Linked DNA regions of Homo sapiens. The protein of the gene in region 2 interacts with the protein of the main gene of each other region in a biochemical or structural test. Each region holds a gene or a part of one and is shown on either strand. Other genes may lie near its edges.

Region 1 (4,045 bases), on a different chromosome or scaffold from region 2:
TGGGATGTGGCCAGTAAGGCTGAGGAAATGGATTTTAAATTTTATTTCACTTTCAACTAATTTAAATATCATCCAGAGAGGGCTGGTGGGTGCCATACTGGGCAGTACATCTATCAAATAACTATTTCCTGTGATTTCAAGCGGTTGGGGAAATTCATGGACCTAAGGATTTATAGTTAAAATCTGGATTAATAGCAGTAAACACATAGCACCACAGGTAAATATCCTCATGAAGAGCTTTCCAATTCTACTCTGAAAGACCACCAGCTTCCCTTTAGCGACTCAACACCCATCACTAACTATTGGTGTAGGCAAGGTGCCAGGAAAGGGACTGGGCAGAGGGGGACAGAGGCTGCGGAAGGCCAGTGTCCAGGAGAGACAGGTGTTTAAAGGCTAGTGACAAAACTGTTTCGCAAGCAGAGGAACCCAGGTCTAAAGAGCTCAGATAAGAGTGGGGGTCTGTTCCAGCCTGGGGATCACAGGGGCTTCCCGGGGGCAGCAAGGAGGCCATGCGGTCAGGCAGGACTTCAGGCCCCATTCTGGGTTCTGGCCTTTTACCCCAAAAGCAATGGGAAGCCACGTGTTGCATCAGAGAAGCGGCTTGACCACATTCACAGGGGCGTCAGTGGGGCGGAGGGAGCCCGGGTGGGGTTGGAGGCTGGTGCTCAGCGGGGACATGAGAGCTAACGAAGCACAAGGCACAGGACAGGGATGCCTTGGCCATGAGGAATGAGGCAGAGGCTGAGATGAAGATCCTGGGTTTCTGGCTAACGCTAGAGGGAAGACGGCAGGGGCCTGTACTGAGGCGCAGAGCAGAAGATGGGGAGCCTGTCTGTCGGGCTGAGTCTTAGCTGTGCCAAGTCTGGACATGAAGTATTGAAGCAGAGGGGCTGCTGGGCAGTAAAACGCCCCCAGTTGAGTTCTGGCTGGAGGTTACAGTCAGCACACAGAGAAGCCATGGCTCCACCTGGGGGAAGGGCAAAGGCAGCTCAAACAAACCCTCTAGAAAGGGCATCCAGCAGGGACGGGAGGCGAGCAGACTGCAGGCTTGGAAGGACGAAGACAGAAGGAGGAAAACTGGAGGAGCATGGGGCCGAGGAGCAGGGGGCCACAGAGGCCCAGGCCAGAACTTCTGGAAGGTTTAAATGCAATGGAGAGCGCAAAACCCAAAGAATAAAACCCAAAGAATGCTAACAGGATTTAGCAATGGGGTTGTGAGAAACCTCACCCAGAGTTGGGCTTTAGAGATGGAGCCGAAAGGAGTCGGGAGAGGAGGAACACACGGGGTTGGTGGGGTAGGGAATCCATGGCACCAAACGGAGCAGGTTATTTCACTCTGGTGGTAAAGGGAACTGGGCAAAGGGATGTGGCAAGGAAGGGGCCCAGGACAGGGGAGAGCCACGAAGGGTCTGATGTATCTAACGTGAGTCTGAGCGCATCTAAATACCGACGGATGGATCCAGGGGACAGAGACTGAAGACAGAAGGAAGGGGTGAGGGACAGATTCCCTAGAAAAGAGGACAGGATGGGGGTGGGCAGTGAGACTGGCCTGGGGAAAAGGAAGGAGCCTCCTAGGAGGACGAAGTGGGAAGCTGCCCTATAGAAGTGAGGGTTCACAACACCACCCTGTAGGGGCAAATCTTAAGTCTTACTAAATCTGGATATTAACTTTTCACATGGAGGGGCATGTTTATTTACTCAAAAAACACCTGAGTACCATTCATATGTCAGGCACCGGATGTAACTGTGGGCAAGGCAGAGCTCAGAAGGAATCAACAGGGTACTTTAACATGATTTTAGTTTTTAAGATATACCTTAGAAAAAATAAAAACTTCACTACTGAGGAATCTAGGCTTTAAGCTGTTGTAACAGGTGCGTCAGACCTGGTCCCTCCTGACTTCAGTTCTCTGACGAAGGCAACACTCACCGGCTCCCAGGACTGTGCGGTGCGAGGGAAGCTCAGGACCCCAGGCTGCAGCTTGCACGGAGCCATCTGTCCTGTCCGCGGGCTTCATGGAGGAGTCCTCCAAGTGCAGAAGCCAATAAAAACATGGTTGTTTGAGTGACAGCACATTTCAAAGTCACCGCAAAATAATAAAACTGCAATCCTTCTGTTAACACAGGAGACAGCAAGAGCCTGCCACAAGGCTTCTCTTCTCCCTGCATGTCCACTTTATAAGAGGCCTCAAGAGCGTAGGAAGGAGCTGAGGCTCCCCTGGGTTGCAGCGGGGGCTGCTACTTAAAAAGCCACTTGGAAGGAGCAGGGAAAGTCAGGGGCCCAGGCACGAGCAGATAAGCTCACACCTCCTAACAGTGGCCCAGGGATGACAGGGACTGGGGCAAACAAAAAGCCAAATTGAAACAGAACAAAATTGTCCTGAGGTCATCAGCGAGAACAGAGAAATAGGCAAGTGGCCCCTGGGCAACTTCCTGTGATCTTTAAAGAATATGCTGGAGTATTTAAGGCGGGGAGGAGCCAGTTTAAGCCCAAGCTAACGCACAGAGGCAGCTGCTTGTCCTGACCAGGAGCTCATACCTGGTGGGCAGAGGTGGTCGGGCGGCCACACTCCTGGTCAGGCCTGCTTCAGCTCTCCAGAGCCTGCTCTATAGCAGGCCCCACGAATAATCCCAGAGCATGGCATCGGTGGGTTCTCAGTAATGAAATTCAAGCATTCAGGATACCAGATTGGCTGAAATATTAATATTTTAGGAACCACCCAGCCTTATAAAAACAGGGCGTGAGAAGGTGGCGAGGCCTATACCGTTAGGGATGGTCCTCAGGTGTCAACTCTGAGGGTTCAGAGGACTTGGGGCTACCCAGGAGCACTACAGGGTAACTGAAGCCCACTTCCAGAATATCAGAACCTTTGCTTCCAGTGAAACCGTCACGTAAGGTGGAGTTTACAGGGTTGTTTTGTGGCTGTGTCTGAGGCAGAACCTGGTTTGAGAATCACAGAGAAGCAGACGATCTACACCAACCCCAAACTATGTGGTAGCTCTGGTAGCTACAAACAGAACCCAGGCATTGTGTTATAACCAACCCAGCACAGGTCAACACCCGGCCTGCCAGGGCCCACAGCCTCCCCCAGCCTCCAGGGCGGCAGGAGCACCAAGTCGTCTGGGAAAAGGTGAAGGCGGATCTGGACACTGTCACCAATAGCAATTACAGTGAAGTCAGAGATGTCCCCGCTGAAATCTCAGGCTACGCCCAGTTTCCTAATCCCAAGAAAGGGTCTGAAGATTCTGGAGACCCAGGTAGGGTTCCTCCTACATTTTAAGCAAAAACCTTAAATAAATCTTTAAATGAAAACTTTTTGCTACCAGGACCATATTAAGCACTGGTCTAATGAGTGGACATCTGTATTATGCATAATTCAAAGAGTATATATACTTTAACCCGATAATCCCACTTCTCAGCATTTATCGAAAAGGGGGACTATCAGTATTGGGAAGAGACAAGGACCGGGATTTTCTCTGAAAACCATTTCTAACAGAGGCTTTATAAATAAAGTTTTATTGGAACACTGCCACGTACACTCATTTACATATTATTTTCGGCCACTTTCCTCCTGCAACACAGAGCTGAGTAGTTACAACAGAGACCATAGAGCCAGCAAAGCCTAAAATATGTATCATCCGGCCCTTTGTGGAAAAAGTGTGCTGACCCTTATTTATTAATAAAGGAAGCCACAAATAGCTAATTGCCTATCAACAGGAGAGCAGTTAAAAAAACATGATTTTTTAAATAATTATATAATTTTATAATTATACAACAGTTGATGAAGAGAAGAGTTTGCCAGATGTATTAACCGGAAAAGTGAGGGAGAAAAAAATGCATTTATAAAGATATGTATTATAGGGAATCACATTGTACTAAAATAGCATTAGTGACCATCTTTGCAGAGAGGAATCAGCTCATTTATGTAGTTGTATGTACTTTTAACATTTTTATGACTAGAATAATTAATCAAGAAGATTTGATTTCAAATTTGCTGTTAATATCGTCACATTGATCTTGATGTTTTTCATTCTTTCATACAGGTTC
Region 2 (3,500 bases):
TTTGATCTGAGCATATTAGTGACATGTCCTTTAAAAACATGTATCTAGCTTTTATATACAGTTATGAGCAAGTAACTTGAAATTTTTGGCCTATGTCAACAAATTTTAGCATATGTTAATATTCCAGAAAAGAAACTCAGTTACATTTGCAAATTGAAATTTAGGTTTTTTCACATATATTGATACCATTTTTTTATGTGAATTCTTTTTTTTTTCTTTTTGAGACAGAGTCTCGCACTGTTTCCCAGGCTGGAGTGCAGTGGCATGATCTCCACTCACTGCAACCTCTGCCTCCTGGGTTCCAGCGATTCTCCTGCCTCAGCCTCCCGAGTAGCTGGGTTTACAGATGCCCGCCACCACGCCTGGCTAATTTTTTTGCATTTTTTAGTGGAGACAGGGTTTCACTATGTTGGCCAGGCTGGTCTTGAACTCTTGACCTCGTGATCCACCCACCTTGGCCCCCCAAAGTGCTGGGATTGCAGGCGTGAGCCACCACACCCAGCCTGTGCGAACTCTCATTTGATGTCTTCTTTTTACATTAGAAATATCCTTAGAGCTTTCTTGAATTTCCTAAGAAACAATGGCAAAGCATTATTTTCACCTTTTAGGAGTTTCGGGGTGTCTTTTTGGTTTTTTTTATCTTATTTTTTTATTTTCTCTTGGGTGTCCTAAGCATAACATTAGTTTACAGTTTTACGATTTTTTTAAAGTCAGGGTCATAAAAACAAGAAAAAATAAACAATGCCGAATTGTTTCTGTTTTTCATAGAGACGGGGTTTCACCGTGTTGCCCAGGCTGGTCTGTAACTCCTGGGCTCAAGCAGTCCACCTGCCTTGGTCTCCCAAAGTGCTGGGGTTACAGGCGTGAGCCACTACTCCCTGCCTAGTTTATTGTTTTAAAGGTTTTACACTTCTCCAGCTTGTCTTGACACAGAGTTCATATTCTGGAAAGGCTTTGGAAGTAGTTTTAGGCACAATTATTATTCCCATGTCTTTGTCAATAATTTGTGTATTTATTTGCAGCAGTTACAGTTGTTTGTCATACTGCCCTTTGGTCATAACTTCTAATTAGGACCTAACGTACTAGGAAAGATCAAACACATGGCCTGTTGTACTTAAAGATGTAATCGTTAAAAAAAATGGTAGGCTACTTAGTAGAAGTTGATTACACAGGCTTTTTTTTTTTTTTCATAAGTAGCAGCTGTAGTGAAGTACGTATTTTTTGTTTTAATTACAGGTCTCACAGATTGACCTATGATTATTTTAATGTCTTGATCTGCAGCTGTAGGGGACTTCCACTATTTAAGAAGTTGCTGGCCGGGCGCAGTGGCTTACGCCTGTAATCCCAGCACTTTGGGAGGCCGAGGCGGGCGGATCATGAGGTCAGGAGATCGAGACCATCTTGGCTAACACGGTGAAACCCCGTCTCTACTGAAAAATGCCAAAACTTAGCCAGGCGTTGCGGCATGCGCCTGTAGTCCCAGCTACTCGGGAGGCTGAGGCAGGAGAATGGCATGAACCCGGGAGGCGGAGCTTGCAGTGAACCGAGATCGCGCTGCTGCACTCCAGCCTGGGCGACAGAGCGAGACTCCGTCTCAAAAAAAAAAAAAAGTTGTCTCCAGTTCTGTAAGGCAAAACAAACTGGTTGGAAAAGATTAAAGTATTTTATACTACAATATGAATACTTGGGTTATTGGCTTTAGGCATATCTACATGGTACTTACAATACTAGAGAACTCCTTGAATATATTCATCTAGCCCAGATGTTTTGAACAACTGTGCATGTTGGATACATGTAGTCTTTCCAGCTTTATACATGAGCCACAATGTTTTTGGACCTGTTATCCCTCAGCCTTTGGGAAAGAGAATGTCTTTTTCTCCTGTTTTATGAGCTGTGTAGTGTGCGTGTGTATCTTAGTGAACTAAGATTGGATACTAATCTGGGATCAGAATCCTGAATATGGCTAAAAGATGTACGTCTTAGTACAGACATTTATAGATGATGATGTTTAATACCGTAGCGATCAGATTCCAATGAATTAAACTGAGAGAAGAAAAGAAGGAAGAAGGTAGTTGAACAATTTTAGAATGGTTGTTTGGTCAAGAATTACTAAAATGAGAAAATATTTAAAAGTTGTTTGAATTTTTATTTTATTCATTAGATACTGGTAGACACAGTCTGGGCCCTCTCTTACCTTACTGATGCTGGCAATGAACAAATACAGATGGTAATAGACTCTGGAATAGTTCCTCATTTGGTTCCTCTGCTCAGCCACCAGGAAGTTAAAGTTCAGGTAAGTTTGTTCTTAGTTAAATTATAAGTATTTCTTACCACTAATTGCTTTAAGCATGGCATTCAAAGATGGACAATTTCAGTAGTTTAAAGTATATTCTTAGCATAACAACAAATCTGTGATGGAAAGGGGAAAATAAATAATAAGATGCCATTGTAGATTACTAATTTCTTTTTTTAAGATGGGGTCTCACTGTCACCCAGGCTGGAGTGAGGTGGCGTGATCTCAGCTCACTACAACCTCCACTTCCTAGGTTCAAGGAACATTCTCCCACCTCAGCCTCTTGAGTGGTTGGGATCACAGGCACACACCATCATGTGTAGCTAATTTTTTTCTATTTTTGATACAGTCAGGGTTTTGCCATGTTGGCCAGGCTGCTCTTGAACTCCTGGCCTCAAATGATCCTTCCACCCCAGCCTCCCAAAGTGCTGAGATTACAGGTGTGAACCACCATGCCTGGCCGGATTACTGATTTTTAATGTAGACCAGGGAAGTTCATTATAGCAACATGCATGGCATCTGAAACAAGTATTGACAGACACTTATTTTTTCCTACTCCTCTTCTTTTTGTTCTTCCTCTTTCACTTCCCTACTTCTTTTTTTTTCTTCCTTGCCAACCATCCTTATTTACTCACCTGGCAAGTTTAGTTAACTCTTATCTTCATTGGTGCTGAAATAAGGGTACTCTACTGAAATGTGCTGTTTAGGGACTTTCTAAATTGTTGCTTTTCACTTATTTAAATTTATTTTTTATTGTTTAAATTCTTTCACATAATATTTATCCCAAAGAATTTGCATTTAGAAAGAGCCAAAAACAGAGTGTGAGAAGTTCTCAGAGATATAAGCAGTAGCTGTTAAGCTACAGTTGTAATGGGGGAGACGCAGCAAGCTCCCTCTACCTTTCTGAGGTAAATAGTATATTTTAATCTGCTAATGGCTTAGAATCTGTAAAGTACAATAATCGCATAAGAGAAACCGTTAGTCTGTAGCCTAAGTCATTATGCCTGAACATCAAAATAAACTGTGTGGAGCTGTTTTTAATTTCTCCTGCTCAACCCCTGGAGATTTCTGTTTCAGAAAATATTTCTTAGAAACTTGAGCTTTAAAATGCTCTTCAGGTGATACTGATACATAGTCAGATTAGAGACCCTGTACCTTAAAATTAAAGCACTTTAAAGAAGGAACACTTAGCTAAATACAGAAAGAA
Region 3 (4,045 bases), on a different chromosome or scaffold from region 2:
AACCAGGTTCAATCACATCTTCTGTAATCTCAAGGTTGTTCCCCTTATTATCAGCCCATACAGGGTTTATGGATTCTTCCACAGAAATAAAGCCACTCTTGATATGGGATTCAGAACCTTATTACCCAACACTAACAATACCACACAATGTTCAGGGACTAGAAGTAAAGAGAAGTTATTCCCATTAAAGGTGATGGGGGAATTTAAGTTGGTAAAATGCAATTACCTGATTAATTCCTTCTTATTAATTGGCCTAGTTTCTCTGGTGGTTTACACCTATTGTAGATTTTTTTGGAAATTAGTTTAAACATGAATTTCTTAATATTATTGAGTGCTTCTTAATTAGGCAGCTTGACAATAAAATTAAAGTTCAATCACAATGGAATTGTGCAATCGTAGGTAAAATTTTAGAAATTTGCTTTATGTTATTAGGATAGATTTAATAATAAACAGGTTTCCTTTTTTAATAAACTATTTTATTAATTTTTGATTAGGTGATATAAGCACATGGTTCTAAATTCAAAAGGCAAACAAGCATGTTTATGGTGATGAGAAATTTTCTCTCTCACTCCCATCTTCCTTTTTCCCCTCCCCAAAAGTTACCTCTGTTGGCAGTTTTGTTTTTATTTTATTTTGACTCAAAATGATCTTGAGTCATTTTATTGCATGTCTTCTGGAAGCCATCACACTGAGACAGCAGTAACTGGAGTCTGACTGACATCCCTGGGATGTGTACAATACGTCCCTCACCAATTAGACCAAAAGATCTTTTAGGAACCCTGGATATCATTAGAGAAATAGTGTATTTCCCTATCTCTCAGAGACATGCTAATTCATCTTTGCAGAAATGCTGATTAATTCATTTTATTTTATTTTATTTTATTTTATTTTTTGAGACAGGGTCTCACTCTGTTGCCCAGGCTGGAGTGCAATGACACTATCTCAGCTCATTGCAACCTCCGCCTTCTGGTTCAAGCTATTCTCATGCCTCAGCCTCCCGTAGCTGGGATTACGAGCACGCACCACCATGCTTGGCCAATTATTGTATTTTTAGTAGAGATGGGAATTTGCCATGTTGGCCAGGCTGGTCTCGAACTGGCCTCAATTGATCCGCCTGTCTCAGCCTCCCCAAGTGCTGGAATTACAGGTGTGAGCCACCGTGTCTGGCTCATTTTAGAAATAGTTTATTTTTGGCCTGGCATGGTGGCTCATATCTGTAATCCCAGCACTTTGGGAGGCCAAGATGGGTGGGTCTCCTGAGGTCAGGAGTTCGAGACCAGCCTGGCCAACATATTAGTCTGCTAATAGTGATAGGTATCTCATCATAGATTTTAAAATTCGCATTCCTATTAAGAGTAAGGGGGAATATCTTTTCACACATTCACATGGTGAAACCCTGTCTCTACTAAAAGTACAAAAATTATCTGGGCATAGTGGTGTGTGTCTGTAATCTCAGCTACTCAGGAGGCTGAGGCAGGAGAACCGCTTGAACCAGGAAGATGGAGGGTGCAGTGAACTGAGATTGCGCCACTGCACTCCAGCCTGGGTGACAGAGAGAGACTCTGTCTCAAAAAAAAGAAAGAAAGAAAAATAAAATAAGAAATAGCTTATTTTTTTCTGAGTATAGGTGTATGCCTTTTATTTACTTACTTTTGCATTTCCATTGACATATCATTCACAGAGCATAAAATTCACCAATTTAAAGTTTACAATTAAGTGCATTAACAGTATATTCACAAGGCTGTACAACCATCATCACTAATTCCAGAATATTTTCATCACTCCAAAAAGAAACCTGAGGCTGGGTGCGGTGGCTCATGCATGTAATCCCGGCACTTTGAGAGGCCAAGGCGGGTGGATCATTTGAGGTCAGAAGTTCGAGACCAGACTGGCCAACATGGTGAAACCCTGTCTCTACTAAAAATATAAAAATTAGCTGGGCGTGGTGGTGCGCACCTGCAGTCCCAGCTACCTGGGAGGCAGGGGCAGGAGAATCACTTGAATCCGGGAGGCAGAGGTTGCAGTGAGCTGAGATCCCGCCACTGCACTGCAACCTGAGCAACAGATTGAGACCCTGTCTCAAACAAAAACAAAACAAAAAGAAACCCGTACCCACTAGCACTCATTTTTCATTATACCTTTTATTTTTAGAAATAAATAATAGCATAGCATATACACTAATCTTCACCTTGCTCTTTTTACCAAAACATGCTTCTCAGAGATCTTTCCTTATTATCATAGTTTCCCTATTCTTTTTAATGGCTCCATGTTATTCCATTATATGGATAAACCATATATTTAACCAGTCTCTCATAAATGGACATTTAGGTTGTTTTCATTCTTTGCTATCACAAACAATGCTGTAATAGATATCGTTATATATGATGTTTTCTACACATTATGTATCTATAGAATAAATCCCCAGAAGTAGAATTCCTTGGTCAAAGGTCTTAGGTGTTTTAAATGTGGGTAGATTTTGACAAATTTCTTTCCTCTAAGGTTATACCAGTGTATGTATCCACCAGCAATGAATAAGAGTATCTGTTTCTTCTCTTTCACTAGCACAATGTCATTTTTAAGAGTCTCTGCTAATAGTGATAGGCATCTCATCATAGATTTTAAAATTTGCATTCCTATTAAGAGTAAGGGGGAATATCTTTTCACATGTTTGCACTCTACTTGCATGTCTTTCTTAGAGCAAAAAGGAAATTAAGCCATCGTGCTCCAGTCTGGGCAGTAGTCGTAGTTAAAGCACAGTAAATTGTTTTAGAGTTCTTTTACTTGCCCTTTTAGTTCCCAAATTTCCTCCTTCTCTGGCCCCACCTCCAACAATTTCTTCAACCATTTTATTCCCTTGAAAAATGCACTTTGGGAAAGTATTTCTGTGAATTCTAAATGAACTCAAAAGCTTCCTAGCTTTGAGGGGCAATGGGATATTAAGCCTTGCCTGAGGTATTATTCAATGTTTAAAAGCTTAAAAACCTAATTCAGTAACTAAAAGATGCTGAGAAATCTAGTCAGAGATTTAGAAACTAAAAATAACCTTTTGCTTTCCTACAAGAGGTTTAAGAATAAATTTTTGGAAACCACAAGAAACAGACGAACAAATTCCAAAAAACGGAGCTGACAACTTTTCAAACGTAGTTGCAAGTTGCCGATACTTAATTTTCTACTGAGGTTTGCTAGGAAGTTCACCAACTCCCAAAAGGATTATGGTAAATCCCAATTTTAGTAAATAGAGAAGGGAGAATGTTGTCTACTAAACAAATTCCTGGATAGGGACGGGAGTGGAAGATGGCAATTTTTGCAAGAAAAGTGTACGTTGCAAAGTGGCCCACATCAATGAACACAATCTTGGGCTCTGGATTTCTGACCTGCTTTTGAGCTCAGCTGTAACCAGAGATTAAACAATTGGCATCCTAAACATGACAGGGCTCCAAGTGAATTAGGCCTGCCTCTGATAAATGGGACTCAGTAACCAAAACAGTGGCTGGTAATCTTGGCTACCATTCAAATGTAAAAGTGAGACATTCAAAAGCTGACTGCAAGCTCTGAGCTTGGATGGGGCCTGCAAACTGTTGGACATCACTGGCGGATAATCTGGTTGGAGACCTTTATCAATGTTTCTGGGGGAGTGCCCAAAGTCAGTTAACTATAGGTCTTTTTTCAGAACCATTCAGTACTTTTAAGAGAGAAATCCTCTAACGTCCTGCTTAGGAAGTAAAATGTCGCTGCTGTCAATCTGAAAGCTGTGCAAAAAAGGGGGTCCGAGGAGTTTCAGTTTTCAATATAATACCTCACTCTTTATCTCTACTGAGCCTGATGTTTCTAAGTCTGGAGACTCTCTGATTCAGTTTCTCTAGAAAGTAAATTGATAGGACAGTGTCTAACTGATCCTTATACAGACTGCCAGTCAATGCTGTTGTTCAACAGCATATTTCACATTTGCTTTCAGAGATACATGGTTATTCCAAATTACTGAGACTTAACTTGGGTTCTGCAGCAAGAATCAGAATGCTTCCCGATAGTATCTCCCTGCTGCAGG
Region 4 (4,045 bases), on a different chromosome or scaffold from region 2:
CCAGGGGGGCTCCATCGCAGGTGCCCGGCCTCTGTCCCACAGCCTGGCCCACTCCAGCTTGTGAGGGGAGGCACTTGCTAGATGTCCACAGCCTAAGGAGCCGGGATCCCTGGGACGCACGCCCACTGGGTCTCTTACCGTCTCGCACAACTCGGACGAGCGGGTCCACCTGGCCAGCTCTCCCTCCCTGCACTCAGCCTGGCTGACCACGGCGCTCAGGCCCCTTCTGAAATCCTGGACCATTTCCTCTGTACGTTGCGGGTTCTCCTTCGCCAGCTGTAGTCCTTTCTGGCAGGATTGCTGTACCCAAGGAACAAAGCATCAGTACAAGCCCGGTGCTTCCACGTTCATGTCTCCAGGTGTGGGCTGGGTCTGCGTGTAGCCACTGGCACCAAGGCTCGGACGGCCCACAGTGCTGCCTGCTGCTGCCTCTCATTCTCGAGAGCAGGCACCAAAGGACCGAGGCATTTCTCTAGTTCTTTTCCAAACTATGATTTGATCTACACAGGGGAAGAACATTTTATATTTAAACATGCGAAGAAGTCACACTCTAGGATTTAGCAGGACCGAGGGAGGGATGCGTCTTGGTCATGTCCTGAGTACACGCTGCACAGGGCTGACAGCCTGGCTGCGTAACCACCCGTGAATGAACACGACTGATGAGAGGTGGCACGGGCCTCTGAGGCTCAAGCTCCAAACTATTTTCATTGTTTGGAAAAGGACATTAAAATCATTGAACAATAGATCCAGGACTTTCCATTTTGAAACTGGTTAATATGGTAAGCATATTCCAGAAATATTCTTCAGGCCAGTGGCTGCTTGGCCCCTTGAGGCTGCCTGGGAAAGATGGGGGAGCCCCTGGCTGAGCCCTGCTGGACGGAGCGCCTGTGGCTACGCGCCCTGGTGACAAGACCAAGGTTCTTATTTTGGAGGCATTTACTGCTGGATTCAGTGGAAATGTCAGAGGTAAGCCCTTCATGTTGTCGTTAAACAGCAACACCAGGGGCGACTAGGGGTCAGATGCCCAGAGATGAGAGGCCTGTTGTGAAGAAGAGAACAGCTGCCTGGATCCATGACCATCAGAAGGTACCGAATGACCCCAGACATGCAGCAGAGGAGAGACAGACCAGCACATACGCTGTCTGTAAACAGAGCCAGAGTCAAGAAGAAAATCACAGCATCTTGATTCTTAGGAGCACGGGCAGAGTCTTGCAACTGCCAGGCAAGGGGCAGGTGCGGCTTCGGCAGAGCAGAGTGGGGGTGGCGCAGAGCTGGAGCCTGGCCTCCAACTTTGTGGAAAAATCGGCTGTCATTGGTTTCAAGATTTAAATACAAAAATTCAAGTCATAAAGGTTCTATGATGAAATACACTAATAATTCTATAACTTAAGGTAGAAAGGGCTGTTTAAAAGATAAGCAAAGCTAGAGGGCAAATGACAAACTAGGAAAACAAGCAGAACATGAAGGATCCATATAACATAGACAGAAGTGATGATCAACCCTAGAAAAACTGTCTAAAGCATGAACAAGTAATTCACTACAGAAATAAAAATAATAAACGTGTGAAGAGAATGTCCAGCTGTCGCATAGAAAATCTGAGGGCACACTGTTTAGGGGCTCCATTTCCCCACGGGGCAGCCGGCGGGAGGCAGGTGCGGCTGGAGTGCCACGGCTTATGCGTGGAAACCTCCAAAAACAAATGGTCTGACCGCAGCCATCCGAGCCTAGGAATGTATCCAGAGTCAACACCCACAGGCTGTGAAGGAAGCAGAGACACAGAGATGTTCAACATGGGGAGTTTCTAACAGCAGAGAGGGGAGGAGCCCAGGGCCTTCAGTGTGGGAGCCGTGTGAACATGGCTCGGGGACTGAGCTTGCAGCGCATGCCCACACACAGGGTGCCGAGGCCGCCACATGCGGCATCCCGTGTGTAAAAATCTATTTGTTTCTAATTTTCCCACAGTGTGCATGCACTTTTTAGGTTAAATATATAGAGACAGACGTGCACCTATACATAGCAGGATCGCCTGTCCGGTCACAACGTGGAGTTTCTGGGTGAAGACTGCAGAGTGAGACGTGTCCTCTTGAGACACCACTAAAGCCCTGCAAGCATCTTCCAAGGCGTAACACTCAGCACGGTGGGCAGAGAGCAGCCAGGGCACAAACCTGGAGGCCGGGAAGGAAGCGGGAGTGGCAGGGCCTGAGGAGAGCAGAGGCCAAGTCCCGAGACTCCACAGGACAGGGTGAGGGAGTGTCGGAGGGAAGGAGCTGGGCACCCTGCTCCACAGGGCCCAGGGTCTGTTCCCTGGCAGGTGAACACTGAGCTACGGCCAGGCTCTCCTTTCAGGCCGGGATTAGAGGAAAAGAATCAGACCGCCAGGGAGAAAATGCTAAAGATGCGTGGGCCACAGGCTTCCTAGCCAGGGGTCGCCAGGAAAGCCTCTGGCGCCAGAACAAACCCACAGAAGCCACAGACTGTGCAGACTCATCATGATTAGTATGGAGAGGGGACTGTTCAGAAAATAAGCCCATGGAGTTAAAAAGCAAGAGCAGAAACAAAAAACTCAATAATAGAGTTAGAGGGTAAAGCTGAGAAAAATCTACCTTACAAGGACAGCACACAGCCAGGGGTGGGGAAAATTAAGGCAACAGGACAGAAAACTCCAGAACCAGATGGAAGTGTGGAGCTGTGGGAAATGCGAGCGCCACGAAGGATGTCACAGAATTCCCAGAACAGAGGGGCGCAGTGCAGACACAAAGAGCACACCTGCCCTCGGTGCACCTGGGCGACCCTCAGGCACACCTGCCCTCAGTGCACCTGGGCGACCCTCAGGCACACCTGCCCTCAGTGCACCTGGGCGACCCTCAGGCACACCTGGGCCACCCTCAGGCACACCTGCTCTCAGTGCACCTGGGTGACCCTCGGGCACACCTGCCCTCAGCGCACCTGGGCAACCCTCAGATTCCAGAGCCCCGAGGACGACAGGAAAGTCTGTGGCTTCCACCGAGAAGCAGGGCACAGGCAGAAGGCTGGGAGTGGGATGGAAGCTAAGCACAGGCGCAGGGCCTTCCAGCTGGCGAAGGGAAACTAAAGTGACTGCTGGCCATGAAGGTGGAGTAGAGATGCTTTTAGATACCACGGCCTCAAAAATGCTCACCCCAAGATCCCTTTCTCTGGGAAGTCCTGGAAGTTATTCTGCATAAAACGCCAAAGTAAATGAAAAAAGAGGAAGACTTGGATACAGGAAATAGGAGACCACAGGATGGGGCAGAGTGGGGAGGGAGATGGAGGAGACCCCAGGAAGAGCAGAGGGAGGAGGGGAGATGGGGGAGACACCCCAGGAAGGAGTAGAACGAGGAAGGGAAGACGAAGGAGACCCCCCAGGACAGGCAGAGGGAGGAAGGGGAGATGGGGGAGATCCCCCAGGATGGGCAGAGGGAGGAGGGGAGATGGGGGAGACCCCCCCAAGGACGGAGTAGAACGAGGAGGGGAAGATGAAGGAGACTCCCAGGACGGGCAGAGGGAGGAGGGGGAGATGGGGGAGACCCCCTGGGATGGGCAGAGGGAGGAGGGGAGATAGGGGAGACCCCCAGAATAGGCAGTGGGAGGAGAGATGGGGGAGACTCCCAGGACGGGCAGAGGGAGGAGAGGAGAAGGAGGAGACCCCCAGGATGGGCAGAGAGAGGAGAGGAGATGGAGGAGACCCCCAGGATGGGCAGAGGGAGGACAGGAGATGGAGGAGACCCCCAGGATGGGCAGAGGGAGGAGAGGAGATGGAGGAGACCCCCAGGATGGGCAGAGGGAGGAGAGGAGATGGAGGAGACCCCCAGGATGGGCAGGGGGAGGAGGGGAAGATGGGGGAGACCCCCAGGATGGGCAGGGGGAGGAGGGGAGATGGAGCCAGGATAGAGCAGAGGGAGGAGGGGAGATGGAGGAGACCCCCAGGACAGAGGGCACAGACTGGAGACAGCCCGGACTGGCTGGTGGCTGCAGCTTGGCCTGGACTCCACTTGCCTGGTGTGGGGTTCCTGTTCCTGCCCCAGGG
Region 5 (4,556 bases), on a different chromosome or scaffold from region 2:
GTTTGAACCCAGGAGGCGGGAGGCTGCAGTGAGCAGAGATTGTGCCACTGCTCTCCAGCCTAGGTGACAGAGCGAGACTCCATCTCAAAAAAAAAATTTAACTTGAGCTGAGTCTTTAGGGAAGAAGGTACAGTCTGTGTGAAGGCATAACATACATGATTAAGTGGTTACTGAGAGAGAGTTAACAGAATATGGAGATATTCTGACATAAGACAGAAAAAAATTACAAAGTACTGTCCTGGGCCGGGCATGGTGGCTCACGCCTGTAATCCCAGCACTTTGGGAGGCCGAGGCGGGTGGATCACAAGGTCAGGAGATCGAGACCATCCTGGCTAACACGGTGAAACCCTGTCTCTACTTAAAATACAAAAAAAATAATTAGCCGGGAATGATGGCGGGCGCCTGTAATCCCAGCTACTCGGGAGGCTGAGGCAGGAGAATGGCGTGAACCCAGGAGGCAGAGCTTACAGTGAGAAGAGATCGCACCACTGCACTCCAGCCTGGGCGACAGAGCGAGACTCCATCTCAAAAAAAAAAAGTTCCTGGACCCACCTCTCAAACTACCCATTTCCCAATAAGATGTGACCTCCAAAGGGGCTTAACAGATTTAAAAACATCAAATAACACAATCAGGGAGGGAAAGACAAAACGTATTTATTCCAGGCCAGGTCTTAAAATGCACACTGCACGGTTCCCTGTTGTTATCAGCACCAGTAAGGAAAGAACGTGCCTTAACGGCAGCCCCACCCAGAGCCTGCTGCGTGGCTGCTGTGAGGCTCCCCATGAATCCACGCAGTCTTCTTCCTCACTGGTGCAGTTGGTGAGGTTTTCTACCCTCACAGCAAAGGGATCCTTAACTATAAATTCACGGTATGCAGAGAAGAGGACAGAATCTGATTTACTGATTGTTCCTCATTTAAACCATGACTTAATCTCTATCTTAGGATTTAACTATCTTTATTTTCTGGTTAAAATTTTTAAAAAAAGTGGGGAGAGGGTGAGAGTCGTAAGGGGCAATAGCAATAGAGATTACACTGTGCTGACACAGAGACTAAATTCTAGTCAGAGTGAAGACCCATATAAAAGGCCGGCTGATGGTTTAAAGGAAGTAACTACATGGAGTCTAATCGAGACATTCATGAGTTACATCTCATTATTAGCCTTAGTAATGTAAGAAAACAATTCTCAACAAAACTGGAGTCCACAGTTGTCAAGTATGCTTTCTCAGGCACGGGTAGGTAAAAGTCTGGAGAAATGGGTTCTCTCCATGCCCAATGACAAAGCAAGACGGTCCTAGGTTTGAGGTTAAGAGCAGGTCCCATTGCCGGGCGGTATCCGCAGCTCACAGCTGAGTTTAGCAGTGGAATCGAGTGGAGAATTTGGGAGATACAGGCACAGTCAGAGGCTGGTCACTTGACTTTATCTCCAGACCCTGGTACTTGCGTATTGGATTTGCCTTATGCACCTGCAAAGTAAGGAAAAGTTACCAGTGAGAGGGATGTCAGAGAACTACGCTTATAATTGCTTTTATTTTTTTCTTTTTGAGAAAATGTTTGTAGAGTTTTACAGGTCCCAGTCACTAGTTTCAGGTGTGGGGAGTGGGGCCTGGGGGGCAACACGGTATGATGGAAAAGTGTATGTGCTTTGGAGCCCAAAAGGGTTTCTATTCAGGTCTCTATTGGGTCCCCCAGCTTTCCTTTAGGCCACAGTCTCCTCAAGTCCCTCAGCTTTCACTAAAGAATGCCAAACCTATGTCCTGTGTGATTTACTAGGGTATAATAGGGCTGTACTCAAGTATAGCAGAGAAGTTACAAGCTAAGAATTTCCCAGAGTACAGTCTTAAGTTTACTGACTATAAATATTCACCAAAAGCCTGAATCCTGGGGAAAAAGCAAAAACAAAACACAACAACCATACCAGGAAGGGTGGCTAAAGAAGGCATGGTCCCATCCATCCTTTAGGGTAGTCTAAAATCAATCCTAAATCAAGCCAGATTAGTAGAGAGTTAACCAGCATTGACTGAATTGTGCTTTACAATGTTGCCATCAGTTATGTTGAGAATTGCTGCAAGAAGCAGTTCTATAATGGGGACAAACACAAGAGGCAGGTACCAAATGCTAAAGAAAAATCAAAGTTGAGGCCGGGAAAAAAGGCTGATTGTATGAGTGTATATAGAGTGGGGATTATACTATTTTCTCATTCACTCAGCAAATGGTAGTCTAGATTTTACCAAGAGGCTGGTCTCCTAAATAGTGTGTCCGTGGAACCTTCCTATGGGCATAATCACCTATGCCAATAGCTGCCAATAGCTGTTTCAACTGCTAGTCTAGCATTTTATTTATTTATTTAAAATAGAGATGGGACTTTGCTATGTTGCCCACGCTTTTCTTGAACTCCTGGGCTCACGCAATCCTCCCACCTTGGCCTCCCAAAGTGTGAGGATTACAGGTGTGAGCTGCCACATCCAGCTGTAGTATAGCACTTTTAGACAAAACCTCAACAACTTACACTTCTTTTTTTTTTTTTTTTTTTTTTTTGAGACAGTCTCGCTCTGTCACCCCCAGGCTGGACTGCAGTGGCACAATCGGCTCACTGCAACCTGGGCCTCCCAGGTTCAAGCAATTCTCCTGCCTCAGCCTCCCGAGTAGCTGGGATTACAGGTGCGTGCCACCATGCCCGGCTAATTTTTGTATTTTTAGTAGAGACAGAGTTTCGCCATTTTGGCCAGGCTGGTCTCCAACTCCTGACCTCAAGTGATCCACCCACCTGGGCCTCCCATAGTGCTGGGATTACAGGTGTGAGCCACCATTCCTGGCCTTCTTTCTTTTTAATTGACAGATAACACTGTATATTTTTATTGTGTACCGCTGATGTTTTAAAGTAGACATACATTATGGAATGGTTACTATGTGAGATAATGCATTTGTTAATTAGCAAGATGCTAATTAACATTGTAGTGTGAGCACATAACATCCACTTATTGTAGTGTGAGCACATAACATCCACTTTCTTTACAGTTTTCAAGAATACAATATATCATTAACTACAGTCACCTTGTTATATGATAGATCTCTTGAAATTTACTCCTCCCATCTAACTGTAACTAAGTAACCTTTTACCAACATCTCCCCATGACCCTTTCTTTTTTTATTTATCATACGAAGTTCCATCTAAAACTGTCTGCTTCTTCATTAACACAGTTAACACAACTTGCTGCCCTCCTAGCAGATTGGTCCTTAATGTGGAGTTCAGGTTTCTTTTTGGATAACCAACATCTAAATAATTATGTTAGTAGAGGATTACCTGGAGCGACGAACACTGTAACTCCAAGGAGTTTGGGCTCAGTATTAAAACAAAAATACAGTTGCCATTTAATTCCCATGTCCTTCGCTATGTATTCTTGTCTAATTACAAAACTCAGTGGTGCTTCTTAACCCCAGAGGAAATAATAAGTTACATAAATAAAATAAACAAATAAATAAAAAACAGTCCTAGGAAAGGCATCATGGTTATACCACATGTTGTCCTCCTTATGAAAACTTCCGGAAGAAATTCTGTCTAAAAATTCACTATCAAAGGGATAAATGTATTTTTTGAACAACTGTCTTATGTCTCATGAACACTGCGAGTTTTGTAACTGACAGGTTGGTTCCTAAAAAGGGCCAAAATTACAGCTCCTACTTAGATCACAATGTACACATCGTTAGCTTCATTCACAACTCAACTTCATCACCACCCTCAGTTTGTGCAATTCCCCCTTTCACTCATTGTCTTTGGTACAGCCTTGCGGGCTACCTTAGATCCTGTCTGGTACAAGGTAAGGTACAGGTAAAATAAAACAGAGGCATGTTTGTGTTCGTCAGTGCTCATGCTCCCAGTTACCAGTTCTCTCCGTAGCCTGGCCAGCTCCTCTTTTTTCTGCTCTTCCTCCTGTAGTCTGGCCTCCTCCAACTGCTGGGCTTTCTGGGCTTCTACCTCAGCCATTCTCTTCTCCAGCTCCTGCCGCTCTTTGGCTCTCTTCTCAGTAGCCAGCTGAAAAGGTTCCTGAACTAGAGAACCAGAAAGGCCCTCTAAGTACAGAAACAGAAAAAATATTGGTGCACAAGCAGGACTTGCATAAACCTACGCCCCCTGGAATGAGCAAGTGGCACAGACATGCACACTAACAGGAAGACTGTGCTCTAAACAAGCCCCATTGGGAGAAAGGTAGAGCCAACTAAATACAAAAAGTTTTAGAATTTTAAGAGTTCAAAGGGCCCCTGGAAATCGTCTGGTGTAATTGGGAAAAAGGCAAAGACATAAAGTAGCTTGCACAAAACTATATAGTGATTGATTTTGAGGCAGACATAGAAGAAAGATCCCAATATTCTTTTTTTCCCTTTTTGGAAAGATTTTTTTGAAAAAGAGATGGGGTCTTGCTATGTTGCCCATGCTGGTCTCAAATCCCTGGGCTCAAGTGATCCTCCTGTCCGGGCCTCCCAAAGTGCTGGGACTACAGGCATGAGCCACCACACCCGGTGGAATCCCAGTATTCTAGCACACTGCCCAGTGTTTAA
Region 6 (4,045 bases), on a different chromosome or scaffold from region 2:
AATTCTCCTGCCTCAGCCTCCCGAGTAGCTGGGATTACAGGCATGCACCACCATGTCCAGCTAATTTTGTAATTTTAATAGAGACAGGGTTTCTCCATGTTGGTCAGGCCGGTCTCGAACTCCCGACCCCTCAGGTGATCAGCCTGCTTCGGCCTCCCAAAGTGCTGGGATTACAAGCATGAGCTACTGCGCCCGGACTTCTTTTTTTTTTTTTGAGATGGAGTCTCGCTCTGTCCCCTAGGCTGGAGTGCAGTGGCGCGATCTTGGCTCACTGCAAGCTCCGCCTCCCGGGTTCAAGCCATTCTCCTGCCTCAGCCTCCCGAGTAGCTGGGACTACAGGCACCCGCCACCACGCTTGGCTAATTTTTTGTATTTTTAGTAGAGACGGGGTTTCACCATGTTAGCCAGTATGGTCTCGATCTCCTGACGTCGTGATCTGCCCATCTTGGCATCCCAAAGTGCTGGGATTACAGGCATGAGCCACCGCGCCCAGCCCAATTCTGATTACTTTCATGTGTTTGAAATTCTCCATGAAAATTTCAAAATAGATGTGATAAGGAAACACCCATCAGGCCGGGTGTGGTGGCCCACGCCTGTAATCCTAGCACTTTGGGAGGCTGAGGCGGGTGGATCACCTGGGGTCGGGAGTTCGAGACCAGCCTGACCAACAGGGGAAACCCCGTCTCTACTAAAAATACAAAATTAGCCAGGCGTGGTGGCGCATGCCTGTAATCCCAGCTACTTGGGAGGCTGAGGCAGGAGAATCACTTAAACTTGGGAGGCAGAGGTTGCAGTGAGCCAAGATTGCGCTATTGCACTCCAGCCTGGGCAACAAGAGTGAAACTCCATCTCAAAACAATACAAAAACAACAACAACAACAACAACAAAAACCCACAATCTGTTTTTTCAACTACACTCCTCTGTACCTTGGAAACTCTGAGATGCGACAATCCCTGCCTCCACACCTCCTTGCCCCATCCAAGCCTCTGGGAAGTGTGGAAGAGGCAGTGCTGGCAAGGTGAGGGGGAGACAGAAGTCAGGGAGATGGGTGAAGACAGCAGGCCTCCTGGATCAGCCTCAACCCAGGGACATCCTTGACCCACTCACTTCCCAGGACAGACACTTGATGACATCGGATTCAAGGAAGCAGCCAGTGGCGTGGACAGGCCCACATGAGGAAGCTAGAGTCCTGGGTCTGGGCCTCAGCTCTACCTGTGGGCTTTCATCTCCCCACCAGTAAGTACCATGGGGGCATGGAAGTGGATTATCTTTGGGGCCCCGCCAATTAATTCTGTCTTTCAGGGACCATGCAGACTTTCAGACCCAGCCTTACCCGGAAGGAGCCCCAGAGGAAGACACGGCCATCATCGGTGAGGGCTGCTGTGTGACTGTCTCCTGCTGACACCTGTACCACCTTCTCTTGCAGCTCCACTTTCCCAGGGACCATCTCCGAGCCCTCCACTGATGTGTCCCTTCCCAGGGCACCCTCATCATTGCAGCCGAAGGAATAGACCTGTGCCCAGGATGCCCTCATTAATGCAACGTCTGGCCTCGCAGTCCATTCTCATGTAGGCCACTCCCCACTTGACTAGCCAGCTCCATTTCCACAGTGAACATGCGTGGTTCAAAAGCCCTGCCCCAAGCCACCCAACCCCAGGCCTTGTCCAACCCTGTGCCAGTCCCCAACACCTACCTGGCCACTTTTGCTTAGACACACGGTGTGCATGCCCCCAGCCTCAGCCTGCACAACATCCTCCGGAATGGATACCAGGGCCGGCTTCTTCCTCTCCATCACATTCTCACCCAGCCCCAGCTGGCCCACGTCGCCCTGGCCTAGTGTCAGCACCAAGCCGGGTTCTGTGCTGTGGGACCTGTGTGAGACTGAAGGGTGAAGAAGATAGACCCTGAGTGTAGAGGATGACGACAGCGAGGAGAGGTCACAGGCTCTGGGATCAGACAAACCTGTGCAGAAGCCCCTGCTCTGCCACAGACTGTTAGTATGAACTTTCTAAGTTTTGTCATCTGTGAAATGGGGACAACAAAAGTACCTCTCTCACAGGATTTTTGTGGAGATTAAGAACTGAGCACATTATTCACGTGAAAGGGGAGAAAGGGAAACAAGGAGACACTGGATACTGTGAAATGAATCTTGGTGGAGAGGGCAAGAAGGGCTGGGTGCGGTGGCTCACACCTGTAATCCTAGCACTGTGGGAGGCCAAGGCGGGCGGATCACTTGAGGTCAGGAGTTAAGAGACCAGCCTTGCCAACAGTAGCCTGTAATCTCAGCTACTCAGGAGGCTGAGGCAGGAGAATCACTTGAACCTGGGAGGCGGAGGTGGCAGTGAGCCAAGATCGTGCCACTGCCGCCTCCAGTCTGGGCGACAGAGTGATACTTGATCTCAAAAAAAAAAAAAAAAAGAAAAAGAAAAGAAAGCTAATTATTGTTATTGTTATTTTGAGACGGAGTCTCCCTTTGTCGCCAGTCTGGAGTGCAGTGGTGGATCTTGGCTAATTGCAACCTCTGCCTCCCGGGTTCAAGCGATTCCTCTGCCTCAGCCTCCTGAGTAGCTGGGACTACAGGCGCGCGCCACCGCGCAAGGCTAATTTTTTGTATTTTAGTAGAGACGGGGTTTCACCGTGTTAGCCAGGATGGTCTCGATCTTCTGACAGGCGTGAGCCACCTTGCCCCGCAGAAAGCTAATTATAATAGCAGAATCTGCACCGAAAGCAAGGGAGACTACGTGGGTCAGAGAACAATCCCCAGTCTCCATCCAAGCCCTCCTCCATGCCCAAGCCGTCCGCCAGTGAATAAGTTCAGCTCCCGGGCAAATCCACTGCAGAAACGGACTCTTCCCTCCACCATCCAGTGGAGAGGCAGGAGGGGCGGGAGGAAGAGCGGACAGCGGCATTTGCGGGAGGTGCGCGCCCGGGGCTCTCTGTGGGCCAAAGGCGGCCCCCCAACCCGCAGCCCCGGGCAGCCAATGGCGCCCAGCCCCTCCCCCGAGGATGTGGCCACCGCTGAGGAGCCCGCGCTGGCAGCACAGAGGGCGCCCCGGGCGCGGAGCCACCTGGTCGGGTTTTCTGGTCAGGAGGGCTCGGCCCGCAGGCACCTTGGCAGGAGCGGGCGCCAGGAACGCGGCGGGAGGCAGCGGCCCTCGTGTCTGCAAAAGACAGACACTGTCTGAGCGTGGGTCCACACTTCCCCTCCCAGTTTGGTGCTGGCTTTTCTCTCCTCCCTGTCCCCCTCCGGGGTCCCAGGACAGAGGAAACCACAGCCACCTCCCTCAAATGCTGCCAGGCCATTATCTCATCTCATCCTCACACAGCCCAGAGAGGGTGACGCTGCTCTGGCTGCCGCCATTTTAAGAAGTTGATAATCCAAACTGCGGGATTAAGTGACTTGCCCAGCAGCTAGAAAGTGGCAGAGCAAGGACTTGAACCCATGTCGGAAAGTCAGTGGTCCTAACCATAATGCATCACTGCCTGGGGTGAAGCCCTAGGGTCTAGTTTTTTTTTTTTTTTTTTTGTGCCAGTGCTGCCTGAGTGCTTTGAGAGGAGTTTCTGCCCACTTTGTGATTCCCAGAGGGTAGGATTCAATGAGCTACAGGAAACCTTCCAGCTGGGTGGGGTCTCTGCACATCCACACCCTTCAGCTTCAAGCCTCAGGAAGAAAGGAGCCCAGTCCCGGGTTCTTAGGGTTTCAAGGGGCCACCTGTACCCACAAAGAGGCCAAGGCCAACTTACCCTTCACCTTCTTGCTTTTGGGGATGGCATCTGCTGGGGGGGACCTTCTTTTAGCTATGCGCTTGGGTGACATCTTCCTGTCCTGAAAGTCAGTCAAATACTACATATGAGAAATGGCAAACATTTTCCTGGGCCAATCAGACAATATTTATCAAACACTCTAGAAATACGTTAAGAGGAATTGCCCAACAATTCCACTTCTCAAAATGTATCCCAAGAACAGAATAATGGATGCACCCACAGATTAATTACACAAATATTCTCTACTGTATCCTTCATAACATTTTAAAAACAACAAAA
Region 7 (4,045 bases), on a different chromosome or scaffold from region 2:
TTTATGAAACCAGTCTCTATTGGAAGCAGATGCCCTCAAGGGGATATGTGGAGAATTTGGATGCATTGATCCAGAATGGAGTAAGCAGGACTGGAAGTACTCTAGAAACACACTGTGGGGTTTAAGGCTACAAAGGATCAACTGATGGTGATGCTGGGTGCAAATGCCAGTGGAATTTTAAAGCTAAAGCCTGTGATTATCATTCTGCCAATCTATAAGCTTTAAAATGAATTGTAAAGACTAGCCTTGGTGCCTACTACAGGTCTAGCAAGAGAGACTAGATGACAGGGCAGATATTTTCTGATCTTTCGGGTGATTTTTTTGTAGATTAAAAAAAAATAAAACATTGCAAGAGAAAAAAATTGTCTTTTAAAATTCTTATAATTCTCAGTGATACACCAAGCCACCCTCCAGTAGTCACTGAGCTTTCCTCAAATATCACAGTTCTCATTTTACCTCCCAATACAACTTCTTTACTGCAGCCCCTTAATCATGGTGTGATTGCAATCTTTAAAGCTTATTATTTAAAGCAAACATTCAAGATATTGGTTGCCTATACAGGGGGTGACAGTGCCCTAACATTTTTTGAATTCTGTAAATGATTCAACATTAAACTTATTATTGATATTATTGTAGAGGCCTGGAATGATTTCACAAAAGCCTGTTTGCACGGGGTGTGATATACAATTCTCCCTGATTTAATTTATGATTCCAAAGCCTTTGAGCCTTCAGAAGATCTCCCCAAAACCAACCCAAGCTGTATCGCTCTTGCAAAGGGGGTTGGATTTGAAGAAGTTGCTAGTGAGGATAATGCGGAGCTGCTGCAATCTGACACACAGGATCTTTCTACAGAAGAGCTGCAAGTTAGTTGCTGAGGCACAAATGGAAGGTGTGGAGGAAGAAGAACATGCAGTTCCACAAGCTACAAGCTGCCTCCCAAGAGCTTTTCACTTCTCAGTTATCTTCTGCTTCAAGTATGATAGAGAAGCAGTTGGAGTAGATAAAAGATAATGACTACAATGCAGAACGCAGCATGATTTCACTTCATGACATAAAGCCCTAATTGGACCCATATAAACAGCTTCTTTATGAAAGAAGGAAAGTGTTAAAACAGCAAACACTGGGTATCTTTTTATAAGCCAGTGTCAAATAAATAAAAACAAGATGATAAACGGGAACCCACATCATGTTTCTTGTAGTATCACTATATCCAAGGGTGGAAGAATATAACATCAAATGTTCAAGCGTCTTCACTTGGATTTTTGATGATTATATCTTTCCACCTTTGAATTGTTGTTGTTGTTGTTTGTTTGTTTGTTTGTTTTGAGACAGAGTCTCGCTCTGTCCCCTGGGCTGCAGTGTAGTGGCACGATCTCGGCTCACTGCAAGCTCTGCCTCCGGGGTTCAGTCATTCTCCTGCCTCAGCCTCCCGAGTAGCTGGGACTACAGGCGCCCGCCACCACGCCCGGCTAATTTTTAGTAGATACGAGGTTTCACCGTGTTAACCAGGATGGTCTCAGTCTCCTGACCTCGTGATCCGCCCACCTCGGCCTCCCAAAGTGTTGGGAATACAGGCGTGAGCCACCGTGCCCGACCCACCTTTGAATTTTTGATGATTATATCCTTCCACCCTTGCCCCCCCTTTCCTCACACTTGTTTCTAACAAGATAACATCACCTTTCTAAGGTAAAATCCTATACTTAAAGTAAGATTTATTAATGTCTTATATTTTTACTAGAGTTTTTATAGTGTTTTTTATTTTATTTTATTTTTATTTTTATTTTTTGAGACGGAGTCTCACTCTGTCCCCAGGCAGGAGTGCAGTGGCAGGATCTTGGCTCACTGCAACCTCTGCCTCCCTGGTACAAGCGATTCTCCTGCCTCAGCCTCCTAAGTAGCTGGGATTTACAGGCAAGCGCCACCACGCCCAGCTAATTTTTGTATTTTTAGTAGAGACGTGGCTTCACCATGTTGGCCAGGATGGTCTCGATCTCTTGATCTCATGATCCGCCCGCGTCAGCCTCCCAAAGTGCTGGGAGTACAGGCGTGAGCCACCGTGCGCCAGCCGGGAGTTGTTATAGTTTTAATAATGCTCTAGTGACAAAGTTGTGTAGGTGTTAAAATAGTCCACCCTTTAACCGTATTTTCCCCATAAATCCTGTCACTTTTCTGCAGTTTTGCAGAAAGCATGTTTTTTTAATACATTCATATGTTATGTTGCAGCACAAATGCCTATATAAGCAGTTTCTCACGTCTAGTCAGCACACCCTTTTCTCTTTGCTTTAAATAACAAATACTGTAGTTTTTTTCCCCCTTAAGATATGCCTGTTACTTTAGAATAGGGGTATCCAATCTTTTGGCTTCCCTGGGCCATATTGGAAGAATAATTGTCTTGGGCCACACTAAAATACACTAACACTAACGATTGCTGATGAGCTTAAAAAAAATCACAAAACAATCTTACAATGTTTTAAGAAAGTTTACAAGATTGTGTTGGGCCACATTCAGAACTGTCCTGGGCTGCAAGTGGCCTGCAGGCTGCAGGGTGGATAAGCTTGCTTTAAAATTTCCCCTTCTAGCTTTGTTGAAAAATGTAGCTTCTGGTAGGACTTGGTGTTTGGTCAGTTCCTTGGGTATTGTTCAGGTTATACGCTGATCATGTTTGATAGTTTTTTTAATGTGGTCAGAGTTATAAATATCTCTTAGTGTTGTTGAATATCAAGTTTGTATAAATGTTTCTCATTTTTCTTGTTTTTGTGTGATTTCCCCCACAGGGGAAATACCACTGGCAGACACTTTTAGCTGCCAACCCAGTGTCTATTCTACCCTTCTTTCCTCCCGACAAAATGTTGGTTTTGTTCATACTGGCAATATATCTAATTAAATTCTTTTCCAGGCTTCCTTGTTCTAGAGTTAACTATGCAACAGAATTCTGGCCAGGGAGAAATAAGCATATTTCGGGGAGGAGGTTCCTGGGGAAGCTTTTATTTTCCTGATAGGATAGGGGAGATTACTTTAGTTTCACCTTTTCTCACTTCCAGTCTTGAACACTAATATGATATCTGGCCATCTTCTGACCATTAAGTGATGGTAAGCATGAGGCCAAATGCTAGTGTTAAAAGTGACAGAGCAGAAATATGAAGACAGCTAGGGTCCCTGAAAAACTGTTAGATAAATGAGTTGGTGCCAGCAACTACCTTCTTCTAGGCTTCTTGTTATGTAACAAAAATAAACCCCTATTTGTTTGTGCCACTGTAAGTTAGATGTTCGAATTTATTGGAAATATGTGCATTTCTAATGAACACAGCAATATTTACTCTACCATATTACAACCAAAAGTTTCTTTCCAGCATTTTTATTTATTTATTTGAGATGGAATCTCACTCTGTCACCCAGGCTGGAGGGCAGTGGCACGATCTTGGCTCACTGCAACCTCCACCTCCCAGGCTCAAGCAATCTGCCTTCCTCAGCCTCCTGAGTAGCTGGGACCACAGATATGTGCTACCATGCCTGGCTAATTTTTTGTATTTTGGGCAGTGATGAGGTTTCACTATGTTGCCCAGGCTGGTCTCGAATTCCTGAGCTCAAGCAATCCTCCCACCTCGGCCTCCCAAAGTGCTGAGATTACAGATGTCAGCTACTGCACTCAGCTTCTTTCCAGCGTTAAAAAAAATCAAACCCAGGAATTGAATACTGAAAGACTAATGACTGTCATGACCAGTTTGAAGTAACTTCAGTTTTGTAATTTATTACCACTACCCAAGGTACTCTTCAAACTTCTGTGGTAGAGGCAGAAGTGGAGTTCCTCCCGGTTCTAAGACCAGGCCCACCCATTTTGGTCTAGTCCAGCTGGTGGAAAAGTAGAGGAATCAAGAGACTAGATTTGTGTTTGTGCTTGGGGGGGTGGGGGGGTGGGGGAGAGTCAGTGAATAATTCAGCACAATGAACCATATCCATATTTTGTTTCTTAGTTGCTCCAAAAGCTGGGATTGTGTATACTAACATTACAGAATTGATACATTGTTTAATTATAAACAGCAGGTGG

What was found.
Region 1: the proteins of KPNA4 (region 2) and HJURP interact in a test that uses a peptide from one of them, tested with the Homo sapiens proteins (one study listed by BioGRID).
Region 3: the proteins of KPNA4 (region 2) and ZRANB3 interact in a test that uses a peptide from one of them, tested with the Homo sapiens proteins (one study listed by BioGRID).
Region 4: the proteins of KPNA4 (region 2) and PLEKHG4B interact in a test that uses a peptide from one of them, tested with the Homo sapiens proteins (one study listed by BioGRID).
Region 5: the proteins of KPNA4 (region 2) and TPX2 interact in a test that uses a peptide from one of them, tested with the Homo sapiens proteins (one study listed by BioGRID).
Region 6: the proteins of KPNA4 (region 2) and RCC1 form a complex in vitro, tested with the Homo sapiens proteins (one study listed by BioGRID).
Region 7: the proteins of KPNA4 (region 2) and SCAND3 interact in a test that uses a peptide from one of them, tested with the Homo sapiens proteins (one study listed by BioGRID).

The regions. Positions count from the first base shown.
Region 1 is NC_000002.12:233,847,836-233,851,880, forward strand, and holds part of HJURP (Holliday junction recognition protein), read right to left. Parts: exon of another isoform or gene 2,025-4,045; coding exon 1,928-2,024; intron 1-1,927. UniProt on the Homo sapiens protein: Centromeric protein that plays a central role in the incorporation and maintenance of histone H3-like variant CENPA at centromeres.
Region 2 is NC_000003.12:160,520,572-160,524,071, reverse strand, and holds part of KPNA4 (importin subunit alpha-3), read left to right. Parts: intron 1-2,161; coding exon 2,162-2,293; intron 2,294-3,500. UniProt on the Homo sapiens protein: Functions in nuclear protein import as an adapter protein for nuclear receptor KPNB1. Binds specifically and directly to substrates containing either a simple or bipartite NLS motif.
Region 3 is NC_000002.12:135,209,460-135,213,504, forward strand, and holds part of ZRANB3 (DNA annealing helicase and endonuclease ZRANB3), read right to left. Parts: intron 1-4,045. UniProt on the Homo sapiens protein: DNA annealing helicase and endonuclease required to maintain genome stability at stalled or collapsed replication forks by facilitating fork restart and limiting inappropriate recombination that could occur during template switching events.
Region 4 is NC_000005.10:158,038-162,082, reverse strand, and holds part of PLEKHG4B (pleckstrin homology domain-containing family G member 4B), read right to left. Parts: intron 301-4,045; coding exon 139-300; intron 1-138. UniProt on the Homo sapiens protein: Guanine nucleotide exchange factor (GEF) which specifically activates small GTPase CDC42 by exchanging bound GDP for free GTP.
Region 5 is NC_000020.11:31,797,879-31,802,434, reverse strand, and holds the end of TPX2 (targeting protein for Xklp2), read right to left. Parts: intron 4,071-4,556; coding exon 3,883-4,070; intron 1,466-3,882; coding exon 1,355-1,465; 3' UTR 635-1,354; downstream 1-634. UniProt on the Homo sapiens protein: Spindle assembly factor required for normal assembly of mitotic spindles. Required for normal assembly of microtubules during apoptosis. Required for chromatin and/or kinetochore dependent microtubule nucleation.
Region 6 is NC_000001.11:28,529,640-28,533,684, reverse strand, and holds part of RCC1 (regulator of chromosome condensation), read right to left. Parts: intron 3,828-4,045; 5' UTR 3,819-3,827; coding exon 3,746-3,818; intron 3,163-3,745; coding exon of another isoform or gene 3,070-3,162; intron 1,883-3,069; coding exon 1,695-1,882; intron 1,515-1,694; coding exon 1,335-1,514; intron 1-1,334. UniProt on the Homo sapiens protein: Guanine-nucleotide releasing factor that promotes the exchange of Ran-bound GDP by GTP, and thereby plays an important role in RAN-mediated functions in nuclear import and mitosis.
Region 7 is NC_000006.12:28,580,662-28,584,706, reverse strand, and holds part of SCAND3 (SCAN domain-containing protein 3), read left to right. Parts: intron 1-4,045.